Regions from separate parts of the Homo sapiens genome. Here region 1 is linked to region 2. Evidence: fine-mapped expression QTL. Tissue or cell type: aorta. Region 2 holds a variant in brackets; the other region holds the start of a gene. All regions are shown on one strand. Distances are from middle to middle. Region 1 holds the start of SNX7 (sorting nexin 7). Region 2 overlaps SNX7 (sorting nexin 7).

Evidence for each region. PIP is the estimated chance that this variant, and not a neighbour inherited with it, causes the effect.
Region 1: it holds the start of SNX7, and the variant in region 2 is fine-mapped to the expression of SNX7 in aorta (GTEx, PIP above 0.99). The same link has a PIP of 0.9 or more in esophagus mucosa.

Annotation. Positions count from the first base shown.
Region 1 is chr1:98,656,607-98,668,646 of GRCh38, forward strand. SNX7 (sorting nexin 7) reads left to right here and starts at 5,115. Exons shown (of 9, transcript NM_015976.5): 1 at 5,115-5,305. The coding sequence starts at 5,126. SNX7-DT (SNX7 divergent transcript) reads right to left here and starts at 4,166. Exons shown (of 1, transcript NR_189290.1): 1 at 3,701-4,166. RefSeq lists silencers at 4,917-5,056, 5,077-5,196, 5,427-5,496.
Region 2 is chr1:98,676,781-98,688,820 of GRCh38, forward strand. It overlaps SNX7 (sorting nexin 7), which reads left to right. Exons shown (of 9, transcript NM_015976.5): 2 at 8,105-8,287. Among named protein-coding and RNA genes, the nearest start is that of SNX7, 21 kb to the left of the region's middle. The variant G/T (reference allele first, on the strand shown) is at 5,371.

The sequences.
Region 1 (12,040 bases), 20 kb before region 2:
TATCCTTCTGCTTCAACCTCCCAAAGTGCTAGGATTACAGGCATGAGCCACCATATTTGGCCTCTTTTCTATTTTTAAAGACAACATTATGTAACATTCTTTTCAGTGAGGAGTAAATTATTTCCCACTTATTACTTACCTTGGGTAAATTACTAAACTTCTCTGTTCATCAGTCTCCTCATCTGTAAAATGGGGATGGTAATAATAGCGTCTACATCCTAAGGTGTTTGTGAAGATTAAATGAGTGCCCATGCATAAAGCACTTATAAGAGTGTCTGACTCAAGTAGACATTCACTACCTTTCACTGTTTTTTTTTTGTTTTGTTTTGTTTTTTGTTTTTTTGAGACAGAGTCTCGCTCTGTTGCCCAGGCTGGAGTGCAGTGGCGCGATATCGGCTCACTGCAAGCTCCGCCTCCCGGGTTCACACCATTCTCCTGCCTCAGCCTCCTGAGTAACTGGGACTACAGGCGCCCACCACCACGCCTGGCTAATTTTTTCTTTCTTTTTCTTTTTTTTTTTAGTTGAGACAGGGTTTCACCGTGTTAGCCAGGATGGTCTCGATCTCCTGACCTCGTGATCTGCCAGCCTCAGCCTCCCAAAGTGCTGGGATTACAGGCGTGAGCCACCACGCTTGGCCTACCTTTCACTGTTAATATTACTGATGAGCCTGTAGAGAATAAGGATACTCTGTGGGGCCTGTGACAAGTTCTGAAAGAAAATCAAAAAGACTAATGTTTTAGAGCAAAATGTGCTCTCTCTGATAGATTTAAGAAACCAGCCATTGGCTTGTTACCAGGTTTTGGCGAAGATGAGTGCGTTAGTCTGTTTTGTATTGCTATGAAGGAATACCTGAGGCTGGGTAATTTATAAAGAAGAGAGATTAATTTAGCTCACAGTTCTGAAGCCTGTACAAGCATGGCATCAGCATTTTCTTGGCTTCTGCTGAGGCCTCAGGAAGCTTACACTCATGGCAGAAGGCAAAGGGGGCACAGACAGGCATGTCATAGGACAAGAGAGGGAGTGAGCGAGAGAGAGAGATTCAGAAAAAGAGTCAGAGTGAGAGAGAGAGAGATAGGTGCTATGCTCTTTTTTTTTAAACAATCATTTCTTGTGTGAACTAATAGAGCAAGAACTCACTCACTACCACAGGGAGGGCACCAAGCCATTCATGAGAGATCCTCCCCCATGACCCAAACATCTCCCATTAGGCCCCACCTCCAACATTTGGGATCACACTTCAACATAACTTTAGGAGGGGACAAATAGCCAAACAATATCAACTAGATACATAAGCATGTGACATCAGGTGACTATGTGATCCAAGCAGCTCCTCATGAAATGGGTGCTATAATGAAAAAAATCCTAAAATTGATCCAGCCTTACTTCAGCAAGCCATGCTCATGTGGAAATGTAATATTTGAAAGTGGTCCTATAAGCATACATTGCATGAGCATTTGGCTTTTACTCTCAGCAGGTCTACCCCTATGATCTCATAGGGAGTTTTATCTGAACAGTTAACTAAGGGGTAAAAACTCCAAAGTTGGTTTACAGATGGATCTTTATCATTTGCGGGAATCAGTTAGTAGTTATTGCAGTGCAAAAGGGCAGTGGACAAGGGAAATCCTCCTCTTGGTATACAACAGTGCCCACTATGCTTCAAAGGGCAGTTAGAATGAGGCTTCTATGCTCTTTCCAGGACAAAGGCTAGAGGTTTGACTTGATGAGACTTAGAAGAAACAAGGTAGGATCTCGGGGTCAAGAAGGTTTGAGAAAATGTATGTAGGTGACTTTCTTGGAATGGCCCCAGAATAAAAGCATATTTGTATGTAGCCCACAACAATGCTCTCCAAAAAAGCCTTTTCATTTGATGAATTTATGTCATCAGAAATAAGTTTGAAAATAATGCTTATTCTCCTGTGGATGTTAATCTTACTGCTTTTCTAGAAACTCCAGTGCTTGTTCTATGGCTTCACATACCATGTGGCCATGGTGGCAGGGATTTATGCTATGCATTGGCTCAAAAATAAGGATTTCCTCTCACTAAAGGATAATTGGCTGCTTCCATTGCTCAGCACTCAGCTTGCCACAGCAACTATGCAGGACCCTTACCCTGCCACACTGGAGGATGCCATGATTTGTCTTTAGTGGAAAAGTCAAATTGGCTTTGCTTTTTCTGCTCATCAGATTTCCCTCAACACGCTCGTCCATGAACTTATTGACTGGTCTATTCCTCAGTAGATTTTGCACATTATATTTTTTTCTAACTAGTTAAATCACTTTCTAGCAAAAGAAGTAAAGCCTTTGGGCAATGCCCATGGGGTAACTTGTCTCATCACAAAACCCATTACTAGAAACAGCAGACTTCATAGATGGTGGAATTGAATATTAAAGATCCAGTTATGGTCTGAAGAGATCCCATCTGGAAAGTATAAGGGAGAGAAAGCTTTTTGACAAGATGTATATTCATGAAACCATAAATTAATGTATGATATTATTTCTCTTAAACAGGACAGGAGTGGGTAGGGCTGCTCTTAATATTATACTTGCACTCCAAGTTTTGGACTATGCTGGTTTAAAGGCTTTAGTACCCAAGTAAGAATTCTTCCATTAAAAAACCTAGTGATAGGCTGGGCACGGTGGCTTAAGCCTGTAATCCCAGCACTTTGGGAGGCCGAGGCGGGTGGATCATGCAGTCAAGAGATCGAGACCATTCTGGCCAACATGGTGAAACCCTGTCTCTACTAAAAATACAAAAAATTAGCTGGGCGTGGTGGCGCACGCCTGTAGTCCCACCTACTCAGGAGGCTGAGGCAGGAGAATCGCTTGAACCCGGGAGGCGGAGGTTGCAGTGAGCAGAGATCACGCCACTGCACTCTAGCCTCGGCGAGGGAGTGAGACTCTGTCTCAAAAACAAACAAACAAACAAACAAAAAAACCCAGTGATAGTCCCACTTAATAGGAAGCTGAGACTACAGGAGGAATAGACATACTGCTTTGGAGTTGTACTAATAATGAGTAGGTTTGGGATTATCTCCCTTTGAGGGGCTGTGAACTGCATGCTCAGGTGCTCAAAGCATGGAGGTAGGGGGAGTATGTGAAGAAAGGTAATATTAATTGGACAGCCAAAGGGGCAAATTATAGTCACGTTTTCCCTACTCTTCTTCCTCATCCTACCCCTCTTCCTATTTTTCTTGTTTTTGGTTGACAAGCATCAATATGGCCTTTCTATGTTTAGAAAATTCTCTGCCTTAGGAATTTCCATGAAACTTGGCCAGATTGGCCAAGCACACATACTCTCCAGGGTTTTAATACTAGAAAAATCAACACAGAGAAACAGGGTGATGGAGACATTTTTGTGGCAGTAATAGCAGGGAAGTTCTCAGAGGTAGCTGTGGTACTGCTGCCAGGGAAAGCAACTGGAGTCCAGTAACATCAGTGTTAATGACAATATTGACACTGGTGAAGATGGTGTGGCAACCAGTATCAGGCAATGGTAGCAGCAATGTCTGTACCACTGGTTCTGTGGCCTTGCTTTTGGCTATAATCCAAGCTGTGCAGCCTTGCTTTATTCTGCCCATTTTCTGAGCCCATTCTCTATGGTTTCTAGCAATTCTGTGAGTTACAGCATTATTAAGAATTTCCTGGTTCAGATTGCAATTAGAAAACCTTGAATCTTCCTTACTAGTCAGAATAAGCTTATCAAGGAAAAAATAAAGTCTTTTAATAACTTATATTATTTACAGAAATTAGCAGAGAGCATTTTGAGAGTACATCTGATACTGTGGTTAATACATATCAGGATCCTCAACCTGAAAATGTTATCATTTACTAAGGAATGGAAAACTTGTACATGAAACAAATACAATCTGCAAGATGGAATAAAATTAAATGCTAAATTGAGAACAGACTGTCATTTAGAAAGTCTTTCTGAAAGAGATGGGACTATATTTAATTTCTGAAGGATGGGCAGGAGATGGCATTTAAAGTACAGAAATCATCAAGCACAGAAACAAATGTGGATACTCATGGGGCAGTGACCAACCTGACTGAAGGGTGGGTGCACGTCTGAAATCAATGGGAATACATTTGAATGATTAGGAGATAATATATTATTAAGGCCTTGCCTCTAATCAGAAATAAAGATATTCTCTATTTCCCCAAATAAGGAATTCTTACATAGAGCTTAATGTATTTAAAAATTTTTAAATGGGCCTACAGAAAAGAGGTGGGGCTGACGGAAGTAAATAAAACCTGAAGATAAATTAAAGAATATATCAACGTGGGCAAAATTTTCCATTAGTTTTGGAACTTAGTTTTGTTTTTGAATAATAAGCAGTTAAATAATTAAAGCTTTGCCTTGGCAATGCAAGGACTGAAGATTATTTCTCGGTGGCAATTTTCCAGACTTGCTAGTTGTCCTTGGGTCTTGGTAACATTCTGCTCATTAACTTCAGGAAGACGTCCAGGAGTAAAGATGCATTTGAAAGTGGCTGAAAATAGTTTGTAAAGCTCAGCTTTCCTGGCTCGACAGTGAAATGACCGCACAGGCCAGTCACTGGGTCAAAAATCAATTAACAAAACGGGAAGTTTTCATGTCTTTATTTTTACATTAGCTCGAAAATCACAACCAAGAAGAAAGGCAACCACTGAATACAGGAAATACAGTATTGTTATTGCTGTTTTTTTTTTTTCTCTTGGCAAGGCTGGGTCGGGTGCCTTCCAGCCTCGCTGTGGATCCCGCGAAGTGGACGGTTCGCTTCGTGGCTTCTTCCCAGACCCCGCCACTGCGGAAACCGTCACTCGGTGGCCCCCGACTGGGTCAATGCGAGGACGCCCACCTCCTACCTTTGAGTCTCTCCTCTTCTCCAGGGTACAGCCAACCCTTTCTCCAACGTAGCCGGAGTCCGAGAGTCCCAGTTCCGCCCCTCCAGCCCGCCCCAGGCCAGGTGGGGATGCGCCCGGCCCGGGCCAGCGCTGGTCCCGGCAGTTCCGCGTCTGCGCAGCGGGCGAGGGGCTGGAGCGGGGCCGGCCGGGGAGGTGCAGGAGACGTGGGAGCCAATGGGCACGCTCGGGGGAGCCGGGCTGGCGGCGGCGGTGGCGGCCGGCTGGGCGCGCACTCTCGGGATGGAGGGCGAGCGCCGGGCATCGCAGGCGCCCTCCTCGGGCCTCCCGGCCGGGGGCGCCAACGGGGAGAGCCCGGGGGGCGGCGCCCCCTTTCCGGGCAGCAGTGGCTCTTCCGCCCTGCTGCAGGCGGAGGTGCTGGATCTGGACGAGGACGAGGACGACCTGGAGGTGTTCAGCAAGGTGAGGGCGGCGGCGGCGAGTCCCGGGAAACTTCCAAGGCAACTCCGGGCGTTGCCAGCATTGCGCCGACGGCTGCCTCTGGCGCGCTTGCCCTCCCGGGGCGGTGGCTCTGAGCTGGGGACGAGTGAGGTCCCCCGGGCTGCTGGACCCCGCCTGCCAGCTCTGGCCGCACCCGGGGCCGCGTCGCCTCGGGGCCTCAAACCGCAGCCGCTCCCTCCTCCGCACTTTGACCTTCCGTTCGGCGGGGCTGTGGCTTAGTGGAGTCTGCAAAGTTGTGATTTGTTTTCCCTTTCTGCTTCTCTGACACAGACATCTTCCTCGCGGCAGCTCCCGAACCTGGGAGGCTGGTGGCTCAAAACCGCTCCCGCCAGCTGCTTTTCGGGCGAGGCCAGCCCTGAACTCTGGGAGAGCAGCCAAGTTTAGAGAAATTATTCTTAATTTAGTGTTGTTGCTTGTGGATTTGAGACTTGGGTGAGTCTCGGGTCTTGTGGGAATAGGTTCTAGGAAATCTCCCTGAACAGGAGAAAACGGTTGTTTCTAACAGGAAGCTCCTCCGCTGAGGAGCTAAGGATTTTTCAGATGGTCAGCTACTGCCACCCAACCCACAGCCAGTGCTTTCGTTTTTCCTTGCCCCCGGGAAATTTAGGACCAAAGGCTCTTATTTGCTTATTTTACTGTTGGAGGGAAATTGACTTGTGGGGGCTAGTGGTAGACTTTTGGTACGTGTAGACTGGTGTTTGTAATTTCTTAAAGGGTTTTAGAAAAGAAAAATACCTTTCTTGCAGGGAGGTTGAATGTCACTCCAGTTTCTCAAGTTGCTGCTGAGAGAAGACCTGAGTTCAGATCACAACGCTGTATTCATTACTAAGAAGCCTGTTCATTTTAACGTTACCTGGAGATATTAGGTAAAGCAAACGACCTACTTAACCACCGCATTTACTCTGGGAGAGCAAACCAAAGTTAGGAAGTGACCATGCATACTCTGACTCCAAAGAGGAGTATATAAAACTTATTTCTACTTCGGTTTAAATGGAATGATAGGCCCAGGTTTGTATTCCGAATATTTAAACAGACTATCACAGTTTTGTGCTCTTGACTTTTCTGTTAAGTAGTAAAACAATGGAATTATTTTATGTTTAGTTGTAAACTCTGCCTTTTTATATTCCACACATACTTCATGTTCAGATCAACGACAGTTGGCCAGTTGGTTATTTACTTTCTTTCCTTCTTTACATTGCTGTTTGGATAAGGAATATTAGTCTATGGTTATGCATTGTGAAACTTTGGGATGGGATGTTGGAAATAGCAATGGTGTATCAGAATCATCAGGGTTTCTTTCTGGTTTTTTTTTTTTTTTTTTTTTTTTTTTTTTTTTTTTTTTGTCGGGGCTGGACCCATCTGGCCTCAAGGGATTCTACCACCTCCAGCACCCAAAGGGTTTGGGATTACAGGCTTGAGCCACAGTGACTCGGATTGTTTTAAACTTGTCAAGTGGTTTCTCTTTCCCCAGATTCTAGGTGTTCTAGCTGACTCTTAAGAATCAATGTTTAAATGAGGTCCTCTTGTCAGAGGCAGATCCAAGGTGAAGCTAATGAAATTGAAGCTTCAGCGCTATTCGTTTGCTTAGACCTCTGGGCGTGTTGGGGGTTGCTGGAGTCGCAGATGTTCTAGGTGGGAAGGAAATGACAGGTCCCGACCAGAAGCATTTCTAAATAAGCATTTCTGGTGAATTGCCTAAAGCTCTCTCAGACTAAGGAATCTAGATCTCCATGGCTCCAATCATTTATTGAGATTTCTTTTCTCATTCTGAATAATGTGTTTTTCCACCTAATTTTGTATTCTTTTAAAAGGGGACCTTCCAAACTCTAAAAGCCCGTACACCTGGGTCCACCCTGCTTGTTAGTGTTAACTGCGCGTGTTGGATGCTTAGAAAAAGTTAAGAACAACTTCTGTAGAAACTGCCCACATAGATTAAGGCAAAGATATAATATTAGTGAAAATCCAACAAGAGTAGTTGGAAAAGTTTAAAATTAGCCACTTTCATCCATTTCAGTAAGTTGAATTTCTCAACCGTTATCTGTAGTTAAGCAAATTTAAGAAAGCCTGCTCCACGTGGCCTTCCCTTTCCACTACCTTCCTTGCCTGCTCCTCTATAAAACAAACACCACTGCTGTTCAGCCTATCCTAGGATGGAATCTCACAATTACTTATGAAGCAAACTGTCCTTCCCTTTTAGTAATTTGAGATTGGCAAACTACATATTTAATTTACATTCACCTTTATAGTCCCCTTATTCTCTTAGATTATTTGTGAATATGTGTCTGGTATACTCTTCCAGAAGCTTTTTAAAGAGTATGAATTTCCCCAGCACTTTGGGAGGCTGAGGCTAGCGGATCACTTGAAGTCAGGAGTTCACAACCAGCCTGGCCAACATAGTGAAACCCCATCTTTACTAAAAATATAAAAATTAGCCGGGTGTGGTGGTGGGAGCCTTTAATCCTAGCTAACCGGGAAGCTGAGGCAGGAGAATCTCTTGAACCCGGGATGCAGAGGTTGCAGTGGGCTGAGAGATCACGCCACTGCATTCCCACCTGAGTGACGGAGTGAGACTCTGTCTCAAAAGAAAAACAAAACAACTTCTTATTATTTTTTTTCCACAACGTATTACAAGTACATGGCAAATATACATTTTGTGTTAAGTATGCTTTAAAAAAAAGAAATACAAGATTTAGTTCTTGCTATCACAATCTTATACTCCAGGTGGGAAGATGTGACAAACTCTAAATGGCAATATAAATCAAGAGGGATGGAAAGTAAAACAAAGTTGTTCTGAATTTTCTTATAATCCAGTGAGAAGAAAATGATGCCAGACCTCAAGAGAATGCAGAGGACATTGATTTAAAAGAACGGGGATAGATGTTAGAAGGAAGAGAACAGAACCAATCATACAAAAACAGTAAAAATAAAAAAATAAAAAAGATACACAAATGGTAACAAGAGCCTAAGAATTATTTTAGAACTAGGTCACAATGAGATGAGGCTTCCAAAAAATTTAACTGGAGAAAAAGGGCCAGTTTCTTCACGTTTAAAGGAAAAAATCCTCCTCTTTGGGGAAAAACAATAAATTAAAATAAATTGCCTTTATTTTTATTGAATACTGTATAAAAGAAACAGCTGTGGATACAGTGTATGTGATTAGGCCACAATGAAGCACTGAGATGCTTATCTGGTACTCAGTAAATGATAGCTCTAATTGGCCTCTTTAAAGATATTCGGGATCATAAAAGTGAGATATATATCATCTAGGATAATCAGGGAACTTACAGGTGTAATCATCCTCATCACCACTAGTCATCTTTGAGAAATCATGAAATGCAATAATGGTTCCCTGAAACTAGAGATAGGTAAATATTGTTTTTAAAAATAATGGGCAAAATGGGAGTTCTGGAAGGTAGCGAACAGTAGGTTTCATTTCAATCTCCAAAAAAGCCATGAAATGAATTATTTAGTATGTTGTTTATACACACTTTGAAAAAAACATGATCAATAGAAGCTACAAGTTTTATAAGAATAATGAAAGACTTAAGATTGTGTTTATGGTAAATCAGAGTTATAATGACATGATTGAGCAAGGCTTTTGAAAAAAATCACTCATTTCTTCAGAAAAGGTTATTTATTTATTTGTTTATTTTTTGAGATGGAGTTTTGCTCTTATTATCTAGGTTGGAGTGCAGTGGCACAATCTTGGCTCACTGCAACCTCTGCCTCCCGGGTTCAAGCAATTCTCCTGCCTCAGCCTCCTGAGTAGCTGGGATTACAGGCATGCGCCACCATGCCTGGCTAATTTTTTGTATTTTTAGTAGAGACAGGGTTTCATCATGTTGGCCAGGCTGGTCTCAAACTCCTGACCTCAAGTGATCCACCCGTCTCGGCCTCCCAAAGTGCAGGGATTACAGGCGTGAGCCACCGTGCCCAGCTGAAAAGTTTATTTCTGAAAGAATAAAGTTGAGACATCTAACATACACATGTATACATATCTTTATATGTATATATATATTTTTTTCTTTGTCAATTTGGAAATTCAGTATAGTGATGGAGCGGCATAATTATACTATTCATCTATTCTATCAAATAATTAGAAAAAGATTAGGAAGTCCTGCTTACTAATTTCTCACATATATTCTCTGCACAGTCTATTTGGTTTCTGTTGTGTGCCTATATCAGTCATCACTCTGATAAAAATCAGAATTCTCTCCAATGATTTAAATGAGAGTTGAATGCGGGGACTATTTATGGAATTATTGGCAGAGTTAGTGAACAAACAAGGAATACTGAGGCATTTAGAGAGTTGTAGTGGGAAAAAGCTATTAGCATCCCTAGCTTTAAAGGGACAAGAAATGGAAATAGCATTGCTGGAAACCAGTCAGACCTGGAGCTGTGGAGATGGGGACACTTCTTCAGGAACTGCATTTACAGAGAGAGGTAGCTACTGCCGGAAACGTGCCAAAGCAGGAGGAAATAAGGGGTATGTTCCCTGAATTCCTCTCCTCCTGCCTTTGGATCTCCTGCTTGCACTCCTCTTTGAGTGGTCTTGCTAAGGTGATGTCATCTATAGGTGCCAGCCTCCTAGGGCACAGAAAATAGATGGGTGGGGTCGTAGGACATAGTACAACAATGTGGAGAGTTACTTTCAATAAAGGTGACTGTGTCAGTATCTCTCATTGTATATGCTCTTCTATGATGTGACCTGCCACTCTCCTACGGAGAGATGGTATAAGTGCTGCTTTCCTTGAACTTGGGTGGGATTATGACTGCCTTGATCTATAGGATATGGTGGAAGTGATGCTGTGCAACTTCCCAGGCTAGATCATGAAAGGGAATGTAGGTTTCGTGTTGTCCAGTGGGACACTGTGCTTTTTGGAGCACCATGTAAGAAATGCAACCTAAAACCTCCATGTTAGGAAACCCATGTTACATTGAAACCATATGTAAATGCTTGGTCAGCAGCCCTAGCCGAAGTCCCTGGCACTATCCAGCATTAAGTGGCAGGCTTTCATGTGAAGATGTCTGTATGATTTCAGCCTCCAGCATTCATGTGCCCTCAGCCATCAAGTCTTTTCAGTTGAGCCCTCATGTATAATGGAGGAGAGACAAGACATTTCTGCTGTGTGCTTCCTGAATTCCTGCATAAACCAGTGAGCATAATAAAATCTAAAACAATAAAATCGTTTTATACGACTATGTTTTCAGATTGTTTGTTACACAGCAGTAGTAACTATAACAATAGCTAATAGTCTGTATATCATAATCAGCCTTCCAAATCTTTTGATAAGTTAGAACATTGTATTCAGAAGTAGACTATGGAATTTAATTGGGATAAATATGAAGTTCTGAAGAAAGCTCCATTAGTCATTGTAAGTAAAAATACCATTAAGATATAAGCTTAGTGGTTAGGAGTAGAAACTCTCTTTTCTTTTTATTTGAGACAAGGTCTCACTCTGTCACCCAGGCTAGAGTGCAGTGGCGTGATTTTGGCTCACTGCAACCTCCACCTCCCAAGGCTCAAGCTATCCTCCTACCTCAGCCTCCCCAGTAGCTGGGACTACAGGTGCACACTGCCACACCCAGCATTTTTTTTTTTTGTATTTTTAGTAGAGATGGGGTTTTGCCATGTTGTCCAGGCTGGTCTCGAATTCCTGACCTCAGGTGATCTGCCCACCTCGGCCTCCCAAAGTGCTGAGATTGCAGGTGTGAGCCACCACACCTGGTCCAGGAGTAGGGACTCTAACTACATTGCCTGCATTTGAAATCCTGGCTGCACTGCTTACTAGTATTATTGCCTAAGGCAAGTAACTTAATGTCAATGCGTCAGATTTTTCATCTGTAAAATGAGGATAAATACTAATGACGATTACATGCCCTAATATGTATGTTCCCCTTTCCCTAAGGCCTACATCCTGATCTTGTCTTAGTGGGCCTTACCATTTTGATGATTAGGAAAAAAAAAACAAAAAAAACAAAACAAACAAACAAAAAAAACAATAAAACAAAATAGGGCTGATCCAGGACTACTTATATTTCTCTTGCAAAAAATTTCACTCTGTGCCATTATAGCTCTCTTATAGGTTAAGTATTCTTTTATATTTCTCCTTGGGGAGGAAGTCTAGGTAGGTGAAATAGAAAGAAGGTGAAAAGCTCTAAGTTTCTCTTTTTGAGGTAGCATATATGATCAACAATAAAACCAAAACAAGGAAACTTCAGAATAAGTTTGGGGAGACCTTGTATAGGACCATTTTATGTGCAAACATTCCTAGTGGTTTTCAGTGACTGAAAAACCAGTATACACAAATGACATGATATTGAATTTAAACACCATATTTTCAAGGTCATATAGGGTATTAATTTTAATGTAAATTTGAACTCTCCATGCCACTTCAGAAGATCCATTCCACTCTCAGCATTTTAAAAGGAGAATTAACAGTTGATGTCAAAAAATGGCAGAGGAATAAGGCCTCATCTTCAGATGCCAGTGCCTTGTTATGGATTCTTTGGAATACTGTGTTAAGATGGAGCTGAAATCTGGTCTGAGCTTAGAAAGAGGGCTTAGATCCATTAACACTGTCTTCCTTTGGCACAGGAAGTAGCAACAGTTTTGACACACGTATTTGCTATCCATGAAAGAGAGTCCACTAAGGGATTTCACTGATGATATGTTCTGTTAACCATGGCCTGTGA
Region 2 (12,040 bases):
GCATTTGGATCTGAGATATTTTGGAAATCATCAGGTCCAACTTTGTAATTTAACATAGAAAGGCTGAATTAGTGGTTCAGTGCCTGCTTAGTCAATGGCAGAGATAGGACCAGAAGCCATTTTTGGCCTCCTTTATGATTTTTTTTTTACTCAGTACTGGCCAACTTTGTTGCTAAGCTAAAATGGGCTTTGTTGCAGATTTAATATTCAAATACATCAGTTAACTTTATAATCTTACACATAACAACAGACAAAACTTTTGATTCCAACATCTGTATCACTACTTTAGGGGAACAAATGTATCTAAAAGAAAAAGTATAGAGTTGGAGAACAAGTTCTTACTACCACTGCAGAGATAACTCAAATATTCTATTGAGAGTGTTAGTTTTATCTTTGCATGTGAAAGAACCATTATTTGAATTTAAAGTTTACTGTAATTATCCTTATGTTTCAGTTAATTTTATTTATAAAGAATAACATGTAGCCCTTCCTTTCCCATCTTTTTCTTTCTTTTATTTAGACAAAACTATTGAAGGTGACTGAGCAGATGACCAGTGTTGCCAATTGAAATTGAAGCTGAGGAGGCATCCTGCATGGTTGGGGTTGAGAATAAGGCTGCCTTGGCCTACGTGGTCAGAGCAGAGGAGGAAGCCGGTGTGGTTGGGAGATTGGTTACATACAGGGGAATTGAGCCAATAAGTAAACATTTGGGATAATAGGAGCCAGGTTTCTCACTGCTGACTAAAAGAGTTATAAATATGGAAAAGGGAAAGGCTAGACAAGCCATGACATGTCAAATTAGAAATAGAGGTATATAGGCCAGGGGCAGTGACTCATGCCTGTAATCCCAGCACTTTGGTAGGCCGAGGTGGGTGGATCACGAGGTCAGGAGTTCAAGACCAGCCTGGCCAAGATGGTGAAACCCCGTCTCTACTAAAAATACAAAAATTAACCAGGCGTGGTGGCAGGCACCTGTAATCCCAGCTACTCGGGAGTCTGACGCAGGAGAATTGCTTGAACCCGGGAGGTGGAGGTTGCAGTGAGCCCAGATCGCACCACTGCACTCCAGCCTGGGTGACAGAGCGAGACGCTGTCTCAAAAAAAAAAAAAAAAAGAAATAGAGGTATATCATTCTAATTTGTGAACTCTTGGTATTTTATATCTGTATCTAGCCATAGATCTAGAGCTGTATGAGTCTGTGTGTGTGTGCGTGTGTGTGTGTGTGTGTGTGTGTGTGTGTGTGTTAGTCTGTTCTTGCATTGCTATAAAGAAATACCTGAGGCTGGGTCATTTATAAAGAAAAGAGGTTCATTTTGGCTCATGGTTCTGCATGCTGTACAGGAAGCATGGTGCTGGCATCTACCTGTAGTGAGGGCTTTAGGCAGCTTACGATTGTAGCGAAAGGTGAAGGACGGCCAGCATGTCATGTGGCCAGAGAGGGAGCAAGAGAAAGAGGACGATCCAGGGTCTTTTAATAAATCAGATATTGCCTGAACTCATAGACTGAGAACTTACTCATTAACATGAGGATGGCTCCAAGCCATTCATGAGGGATTCACCCTAATGATCCAGACACCTCCCACTAGGCCTCACTGCCAACATTGGGGGTCACATTTCAACATGAGATTTGGAGAGGGCAAACATCCAAACTATATCAGTGTACATATGTATGTGTATGTCTCATATATTTATTTCCTAGCATTAATATCTTGGTTTTGTAAATACCAATCTTCTCTAAAAGGAACCAGAGCTCCTCGGAGAAATGTCTCATTCCAGAGCTTGGGCAGGGAAATAACAAAATATTATAAACTTGAAACATCTTGTTCTAAAAAGTAAAGTGCTCAAAGAATAATGAAGACATAGCAAAAACATACTGGTGCAGCTTTAAGGGGCTCCCACTTGTCAAACTTGGGACTGTTTAGACATCAAAATAAATTATGATGTTAATGAATTATATCCACTGAATAAAATAGGAATCTGTGAATCTGTAGTCATATAATTAATTTGAGTCTATAGTCATATAATTAATTTAAACAAAATATTATACTCTTTAGTCTCCTTAGTGGAAAACCTATTGATGGTATCAACATTGAAAAATAAAAAATAGCAGTATACATATATACACTAATATAGTTTGGAGTGAGAGGGAATGAATAAATGAATAATGAACACTCAGGAAAACAAAAACTGGGCTGGCACAGTGGCTCACACCTGCAATTCCAGCACTCTGGCAGGATGTATTAATCTGTTTTCACACTATTAATGTGTTTTCACACTGCTGATAAAGACATAACCAAGACTGGGCAATTTATATAGGAAAAAGGGTTTAATGGACTTACAATTCTGCATGGCTGGGGGAGCCTCAATCATGGTGAAAGGCAAGGAGGAGCAAGTCTCATCTTACATGGATGGCAGCAGGGCAAAAGAGCTTGTGCAGGGAAACTCCCATTTTTAAAACCATCAAATCTCGTGAAACGTATTCATTGTCATGAGAACAGCATGTGAAGACCTGCCTCTATGATTCAATTACCTTCCACCAGGTTCATCCCACAACACATGAGAATTGTGGGAGTTACAATTCAAGATGAGATTTGAGTGGGGACACAGCCAAACCATATCACTCCACCCCTGGCGCCTCCCAAATCTCATGTCCTCACATATCAAAAACAATCATGCCCTCCCAACAGTCCCCAAAGTTTCATCTCATTTCAGCATTAACTCAAAAGTCTGCAGTCCAAAGTCTCACGTGAGACAAGGCAAGTCCCTTCCACCTATGAGCTTCTAATATCAAAAGGTTAGTCACTTCCTAGATACAATGGGGGTACAGACATTGGGTAAATATACCCATTCCAAATGGGAGAAATTGGCCAAAACAAAGGGGCTACAGGCTCATGCAAGTCTGAAATCCAGTGGGGTAGTCAAATCTTAAAACTCCAAAATGATCTCCTTTGACTCCATGTCTCACATACAGGTCACACTGATGCAAGAGGTGGGTTCCCATGGTCTTGGGCAGCTCTGCCCCTGTGGCTTTGCAGGGTATAGCCTCCCATCTGTCTGCTTTCATGGGCTGGCATTGCGTGTCTGTCTGTGGCTTTTCCAGAGGCACAGTGCGAGCTGTCAGTGGATCTACCATTCTGGGGCCTGGAGGATGATGGCCCTCTTCTCACAGCTCCACTAGGTGGTGCCCCAGTAGGGACTCTGTGTGGGGGCTCCAACCCCACATTTCCCTTTTGTACTGCCCTAGCAGAGGTTCTCCATGAGAGCTCCATCCCTATAGCAAACTTCTGACTGGACATACAGGCATTTCCATACATCCTCTGAAATCTAGGTGGAGGTTCCTAAACCCTAATTCTTGACTTTGGTGCATTGTCTGTCCCAACACTGTGTGGAAGCTGCCAAGGCTTGAGGCTTGCACCCTCTGAAACCATGACCTGAGCTCTATGTTGGCCCCTTTCAGCCATAGCTGAAGCAGCTGGAGTGGCTGGGACACAGGACACCAAGTCCCTAGGCGGCACACAGTATGGGGACCCTGAGCCCAGCCCACAAAACCACCTTTTCCTCCTAGGCCTGTGGGCCTATGCTGAGAGGGGCTGCCATGAAGACCTCTGGCATGCCCTGGAGAGATTTTCCCCACTGTCTTGGGGATTAACATTCAGTTCCTTGTTACTTATGCAAATTTCTGCAGCTGGCTTGAATTTCTCCTCAGAAAATGGGATTTTCTTTTCTATCACATTATCAGGCTGCAAAAGTTCTGGACTTTTATGCTCCGCTTCCCTTGTAAAACTAAACGCCTTAAACAGCACCCAAGTCACCTCTTGAATGCTTTGCTGCTCAGAAATTTCATCCACTAGATACCCTAAATCATCTCTCTCAAGTTTAAAGTTCCACAAATCTCTAGGGCAGGGGCAAAATGCCACCAGTCTCTTTGCTAAAACATAGCAAGAGTCACCTTTGCTCCAGTTCCCAACAAGTTCCTCATCTCCATCTGTGATCACCTCAGCCTGGGTTTCATTGTCCATGTCATTATCAGCATTTTAGTCAAAGTCATTGAACAAGTCTCTAGGAAGTTCCAAACTTTCCCACATTTTCCTGTCTTCATCTGAGCTCTCCAAACTGTTCCAGCCTCTACCTGTTGTCCAATTCCAAAGTTGCTTCCACATTTTCAGGTATCTTTTCAGCAGTGCCCCACTCTTAGTACCAATTTACTGTGTTAGTCCATTTTCATGCTGCTGATAAAGACATACCTGAGACTGGGGCATTTGTATAGGAAAAGGGTTTAATGACTTACAATTCCACGTGGCTGGGGAAGCATCACAATCATGGTGAAAAGCAAGGAGGAGTAAGTCACATCTTACATGGATGGCAGCAGGCCGAAAGAACTTGTGAAGGGAAACTCCCATTTTTGAAACCATCAGATCTCATGAGACTTATTCACTATCAGGAGAACAGCACGGGAAAGACCCGCCCCCATGATTCAATTATCTCCCACCAGTTTCCTCCCATGACACATGGGAATCGTGGGAGTTACAATTCAAGATAAGATTTGGGTGGGGACACAACCAAACCTTGTCACAGGTCAAGGCAGGAGGATTGTTTGAAGCCAGGAGTTTGAGACCAGCCAGGGCAACATAGCAAGACCTTATCACTATAAGATATTTTTTAAAGCAGTAGAAGAATGAAAATGTAATCATAATTCACTATATGGCTTGGCTGTGAATAAAAATAATTTTTTTCTTAAACCTCTATCTACCTTAAAATGGTGATAAGATGATGGGAGAGAGAAAAACGTATGTATATATTTGAGAGAAAGGAAACATTGCCTATAAAGTAGCTTCGAATAGGTCTATACCATAATAGAAAGTGAAAGGTGAGAAATGGTTCCGGATTGAAGGGGACCAGAGATATAACAGTTAAATGTAACAGATGAACCTGGATTTAGTTCTGTACTAGAGGGGAAGAACATTTTAGGATATTTTTGGGACAGAGAAATTCAAAAGGGTCTGTGGATTAGACTGTTGTATTGCGTCAGTGCTAATTTCCCGATTCAAATACCTGGATCGGTACTATGGTTAGGTAGGAGAGTATTCTTGTTTTCTGAAAATACACACAGACCTATTTAGGAATAATGGGGCAACATGTTTCTAGCTTACTCTCAATAAGTAAAAGTTTTCTCATCCCTCCTTTTCTCTCTTTTGCTTTCTCTCTCCTTAACTTTCTTACACCAATTATAATTTATCTACAGATCTAACATAGGCATGCTTCCTATCACATTTATGTCATTATCAGTTTTCTTTTCTTCCTTTTTTTGTCCTTCTTTTACTTCCTTTTTTTAATTCCCTTTCTTCCTTGTTTTTCTCTCTCACCTTCTCT[G/T]TTTCCTTTCCTCCTCTGCTTATTCCCCTTTCGTATTCTGTTCTCCACCATCCCCTTTTCCTTCATCCCTCGCTTCCTTTATTCTTTCTCCTTGTCATCTCCTTGATACCCTGGATATTTATTTTCCTGGTCCAGTGTATATGGGCTGTTCTCTAGGTTTGCTGCAAAACTGTCAATGTAGAACATTATTTTCCAGGGAATTCCCTTTACTTTGATCTTCTGTTGTATCTCTTGTTTTTAGATTCTATTTTTTTCTTTCTTGGCATATTCTCTTATTTTGGAGAAGTAAAGAAGCTTCCAAAGAATAGGTACATGGGAAGTAAGTTTTTGAAATCTTCTATTTCTGAAATGGCTTAATTCTACCTGTATATTTGAATGACAATTGCCTGGATATGTATAATTCTAGGTTGAAAATACTTTTCTCTCAAAATTTTGAAGACATTAGTTTATTATCATGTAGTTTCCAGCATCACCATTTAAGAACTCTGATGCCATTCTGATTCCCAAGATTCCTCCTTTATTTTACTTATATTGTTTCTTAAATCTTTAGGGAATTTAAAAATCTCTAGTGTTATGAAATGTCATGGTGATGGATGCTTGTAGGAGTACTACCTACCCAACCAGTGTCCTGTTCATTTTGGGGAGACCTCACAGGCCCTATCAACTTTATGTCAAGGATATTTTTCTTTCTCATTTTCTGGAATTCCTTTTATTCAGGCACTGCCTGCCTGTATCCTTCAATTTAAAAAATCTTCTCATTTTCCATCTCTTGTTCTTTTGGTTCACATAGTAGGACAGTTCTTGAGCTCTGATTTTCAGACTTTCTGTTGCATTTTTATATTGCTATCATATTTTAATTTTCATGAGTCTCTTTTTTGGTTGGTGGTGTTGCTGTTCTCTGAATTTTCTTTTTAAAAAGAGCATGCTTTCATTCATGGATTTAATATTTTCTCTTATCTTTCTGGTGATTTCATGGTTTTTTAAAAAGTGTTTATGCTCTGTTCTATCTGCTTCCTCTAATCTTCTGTTTTGGTTTGTTTGTGACTTTATTTCACGTCAGAGCCTTTCCTCGTGTTTGGATGTTTGGTAGATCCTACACCAAATAATAAAAAGCAGAGTAGACATTCTGCATGCATGGTAGGGGCTTTGATGTAGGGTGGTTATGCAGAGACCTGGCTAATTCATTAGGGGACTACAACTGTCAGTTTTTCTCCAAGATCAGCTAAGAGAGGAAACTTCCAACTATGGTGGGTGCTGTGGTATGAATATTTGTGTCCACCCAGAATTCATACATAGAAATGCTACTGCCAAGCTGATGATAGTAGGAGGTGGAGCCTTTGGGTGGTGATTAGATCATGAGCGTGGAGCTCTCATGATTAGGATTGGTGCCCTTATAAAGGACCCCAGAGAGACCCTCCCCCCTTTTACCATGTGAGATTATAGTGAAAGGAAGCTGTTCTGTAAAGTGGGCCCTCACCAGACGCTGAATCTGCTGACATCTTGATCTTGGACTTCCTAGTTTAGAACTGTGAGAAATAAATTTCTGTTGTTTGTAAGCTACCTAGTTTATTGTAGTTTTCTTTAATAACAGCCTGAATGGACTATGATGGGGTGGGGGTTGCACCTTCCTGCCAACGTTCTTGGGACCAGATGAACAGGTTTGCATGTCTTTTAGTCTGGTATGCAGGACTTTCACTTGATATCTGTATTTTCATAGGACTTCTTCCCTATCCTACTGGATGCCCTCGAGCTCAGACCTTTCAGAAAGTAGACTTCCAGTGTTCTACCAAATTGGGGTGGGAAAGTTACCTGATTGCCTAGGGTAGGTGAGGGAATCTGAGGTTCTAACTCTTGTTTTATTAGATCTTCTTAATAACCAATCATCTGGTTTCTGCTCTGCCACAACCTTTATGTCCACAGGTTCTTGGTGCCTCCAATTCTTGAACCTTTCTGGCATTCTACATCATAAATATCCTTGCCTCTTCCTAGTTTACTGTTCTCTTCTAGATTACTTTTCAGTTTTCTCTGCACTGCTATTTTAGTTACCACTTGACGATCAGATCTCCAGTTTCCAAAAAGCAGTTGGCACATTTCGTTTACCATAGTTTTTTTCTTCTTATTCTTGCCTGAGTCCATTAGTGCTACTGTGACAAAATATCTGAGACTGGGTAATTTATAAATAATAGAAATTGATTTCTCACAGTTCTGGAGGCTGGGAAGTTCAAGATCAATATGCTGGCAGTTTTGGCCTCTGGCAAGGGATGCTCTCAGCTTCAAGATGGTGTGTGTCTTTTTGTTGTGTCCCCACATGGCAGACAGTGAAAGGGCAGGAGAGGCACTAGCTCGTTCCCTACAGCCCTCTTATAAGGTGGCTAGTACCATTCATGAGGGCTCTACCCTTATGACTTACTCACCTTTAAAGGCTCCACCTCTTAATACTATTGCATTGGGGATTAAGTTTCAACATGACATTTGGAGGGAACAGAAACATTCAAACCATAGCAATCCTTGAGGGTTTATACTTTTCATTTGTTTGTTTCTTTCTTTACTGTCATCTTTTGGGTGGGATTTTCAAGAGGAAACAGATAAAAATACATGTTCAGTATACCACATTTAACTAAAAGTCCAATAATCCCTTTTGTTCTTGATATATTTCATTAATATTGATAGCATCTAGAAATAGAAGAGTTTAATTTTTCTATTGATACTAATTTTTGAATGTTTTATTTCTTAGGATGCCTCATTGATGGACATGAACTCCTTCAGCCCTATGATGCCAACATCCCCTTTATCAATGATAAACCAAATCAAGTTTGAGGATGAACCAGATTTAAAGGATCTCTTCATCACAGTTGATGAACCTGAAAGTCATGTTACTACAATAGAAACTTTCATTACGTATAGGATTATTACTAAGGTAAACATTTGGTGAATATTTTCTTGAATATAGCTGCTTTTTTTTAAGCTTTGGAAGTAAGTACCTCTTGTTCATTATAATTCTGAACATTCCAAGATCTTAGCTGAATTGACTTTTACTTTTTCAAACCTTTTGGCTAACACATTGCTTCTTATCTGCCCTTCACTTGTTCTGTATTAAGTCAGTGAAATTCAACTTGACTTGAGAAATAGTCACTCATTTTATAGCAGCTATACTTCTTAGAATAAGAATATCTAGGTTTTTAGTTTAAAAAAGTATTAAGAAATACCTTTGGAAAAGATGGGCCTCAAGTTGTTAATAAAAAAAGAAAATGCTTAAACAGTTCGCAATATTATGTATTCAGATTTCTTTGGAAGATTATAAAATATGGTACCATTTGTTTTTCAAAGTGGGACAGGTGGCCACTTTGTCTCATGTATGAGATACTGTTATGTGTGCAATAATTCAAGAGCAAAGTAGATCTAGAACACAGATCTCTTTAATCGTAGGGCGAAGTGCTACAAAGACAATTTACCTCAGACACAATTAAGCAACCACCTAGTATAATCTGTATTTTAAGTCCTTTATTTAATAGCATTTGAAAATAATTCTCTTTATAATATTTTGTTTATGAAGCGTCACCCTAGACTTTTATATTTCATAAATGTAAAAAGTACATCTCTTTTTTTAGCTGAAAAAGTTCTGAACTATGTTTCTATAATCACTTCTTCCAATGAAACTGCCACACTGCTATTAGTTATGTTTCCTGAAGATATATATATCTTATTTCTTCACTTGAATTCTTAAAATCCTTTCTTGGCCCCTTATTTCAGGCAGAGCAAAGTGCCGACTTTCTTGTATGACATATAAAGAGGCTTCTCAGTCTGGTGCCCACTTACCATATAAGACTTATTTGTTACACCTCACATTCAGTACCTTGCTTTCCACTCAGGTAGAGCTGCTTCTGTTTTCTGAATATTTAGGGGATCTCTTGCTCTCAAAACTGCATATAGTTTTCCTTCTGTTTGCTGTGTCCATCCCCTTCTTAGACAGAAGAAGTCATGCTTAGTTTTCAATATACAACTCAAAATGTTAGATGCCTGTGAAAGCTTCTCTAGTTGTTACTGTCCCCTGGCTGAAATAGTTATTCTTCCTCTGTTTTCTCATACTGTTCTATTGAACTCTTAAGGAATGTAAAACATAAGAGTCAATATAGCAAAATATCAAAAGCATATATTTAATCCAACTAAGCTGTTTTTTTAAATCAATGAAACTGAGATAATAGAACTCACTTCTGTAGGGTTGCAGTAGAATAAGTAATCAATGCACACCCCACTTAGTAAAGTGCCTAACACACGATAAGTGTTCAGTAATTGCCATCTACCTGTATGTGAATAGATGTTTATTTGTATTTATTCTCAGTGAGTTTGTGAGTTTCTCAAGGAAGGTAACTATATTTTAAGTTATCCATAATTCCAAACACAAATCTTAGGACATAATAAGTAAACTATTTATTTTGTTGATGAATGAGTGAAGGAATTATCTTAGCTATATCAAGATGTGGTAGAGCAAGACAACATGGAGTTGAATCTTGATTTCTCTCCTTCCTTGCTATGTGACTTGGACAATTTAATTAACCTCTCTATATTAGTTTTCTTGTTTGTAAATAGGATAACAGTACTAACCTCATAAGGTCTTTATGAAGATTGAATATGTTAATACAGGCATACTGCTAGAGTAGAGCCAAATTTCTTCTATTACTACTGTTATAATTATCTATTGTCATTATCCATTCTAGCAAATAATTTGTGAAACTGAATTATTTTTCCATCATTTGCGTCTCTCAGAAAGACACTCTTTCTAAAGCCACCTTGTGAGTTTCATTCTGATCATAGACATACTGCTCTTCTGAGTTTTTCTATTTACACATACTTTAAATGGACTGGTCTTATAGAAGTAGTAATAGTAGTAGTAATAATAATATGAAAATATATAAACTAGCAAACATTTACTGTGTGACTGCTTTGTGCCAGGTAATATTCTAACCAGTTTCTACATGTTAACTCATTTAGGCTCACAGTAATCCTCAAACGTAGATATTATGATTTACCCCCATTTCATGCACGAGGACACCGAAACTTAGTAGCTTGTTAAAGGTTACACAACATTGTAATTAGCTGAGCTGGGATTTAAATCCAAACAGTTTACTTTCATAGTATACATTTTTTCTATTATATTTTTGTGCATTTAGGTATGGATGTGGTAAACTTTCAGTTTAACTATTATAAATGACTTCCATTGTTCTACTTCTAATTACTTTTACTATTTCATAGTATATAGACTATATCTATATATACAGAAATATATATTACAGATACAAATATATAAATAGTACATGTAGATCATGTTATCAAATAGTCTTTTCTTATTATCATTTACTTACTTATTCCACAAGTTTTATTGAGTACCCCGTTTGTCCCAAGTATTGTGCTTATATATTAAGAATATATCAGTGATCAGGATAGGTCTGACAAAAGGAACTTTCTGCTTTCCTGGTGTTTTCACTCTGAAGAAGGGGTGTTTGCATATGATGATATTAAATAATTAATTTTGTACTGTGTTAGTTTGTTCTCATGTTGGTAATAAAGACATACCCAGTACTGGGTAATTTATAAAGGCGGGACATTTAATTGACTCACAGTTCCACATGGCTGGAGTAGGGGGCTCACAATCATGGCAGAAAGCAAGGGGGAAGCAAGACACATCTTACATGGAAGCAGGCAAGAGAGAGCTTGTGCAGGAAAACCCCCATTTATAAAACCATCAGATATCATGAGCCTTATTCACTACCATGAAAACAGTATGGGGGAACTGCCCCTATGATTCAATTATCTTCACCTGGCCCCGCCCTTGACACATGGGGATTATTACAATTCAAGATGAGATTTGGATGGGGACACAGCCAAACCATATCATATACTAAGTAATTTCTTTATAGTTATAAATATTTTGAAGGAAAAATATTGGATATTATGAGCATGGGATACACCATCTAATTTGGAGGTTGAAAGATGGCTTTCCTGGGAAAATCTTAGTTTTGTAAATATTTATATTCATGGGTACTAAGGATTGTAAGGGTAAATGAATATACACATACATACATGGACAATCACCTATTTAGGAATACTTAAGAATGATCCAACTGTGAATGATTGTATCGGGAAGACCACATTTGTGGCATCTGTTCTTTTTATGGGAAATTACCCTTTGTTGTCTAGGTTAGCATATTTTAAGTGACTGTTATAGAGAAGTATTTTCTCTTTTGGAGATCTAAAGATGTACGTTCTCTTAGTACATATAAGAGTAAGAATGAAGAGATTTAACAAGGTACTTTCCTTCCACTTCCTCTTTGTGAAAACAAACCTATAAATGCCTGTCATTGTATAGTTAGGAGTTAAGCTGTATTCTTGATTGGCTGAACTGACTATTAAGTTTCATTTTCCCTCAAAAAAAGTTTTCTAAATAATGAGTTTAGAATAACTGTTCACACTTGACTGAAGGTTGGTATTTTTGGAATAAATGCTTTTGGGGGTAGAGATCACACAAGTTCATTAGTACTAAACTTCAAATACCCAAGCTTTTATGGTCAAACATGAAAAATTGGCCAGCATTTTCAATGTTGCTTCCATAGAAAACTGTATTCTATGTTAGAAGCATTATTTATACTCCAAATGCACTTTATGAAATACATGA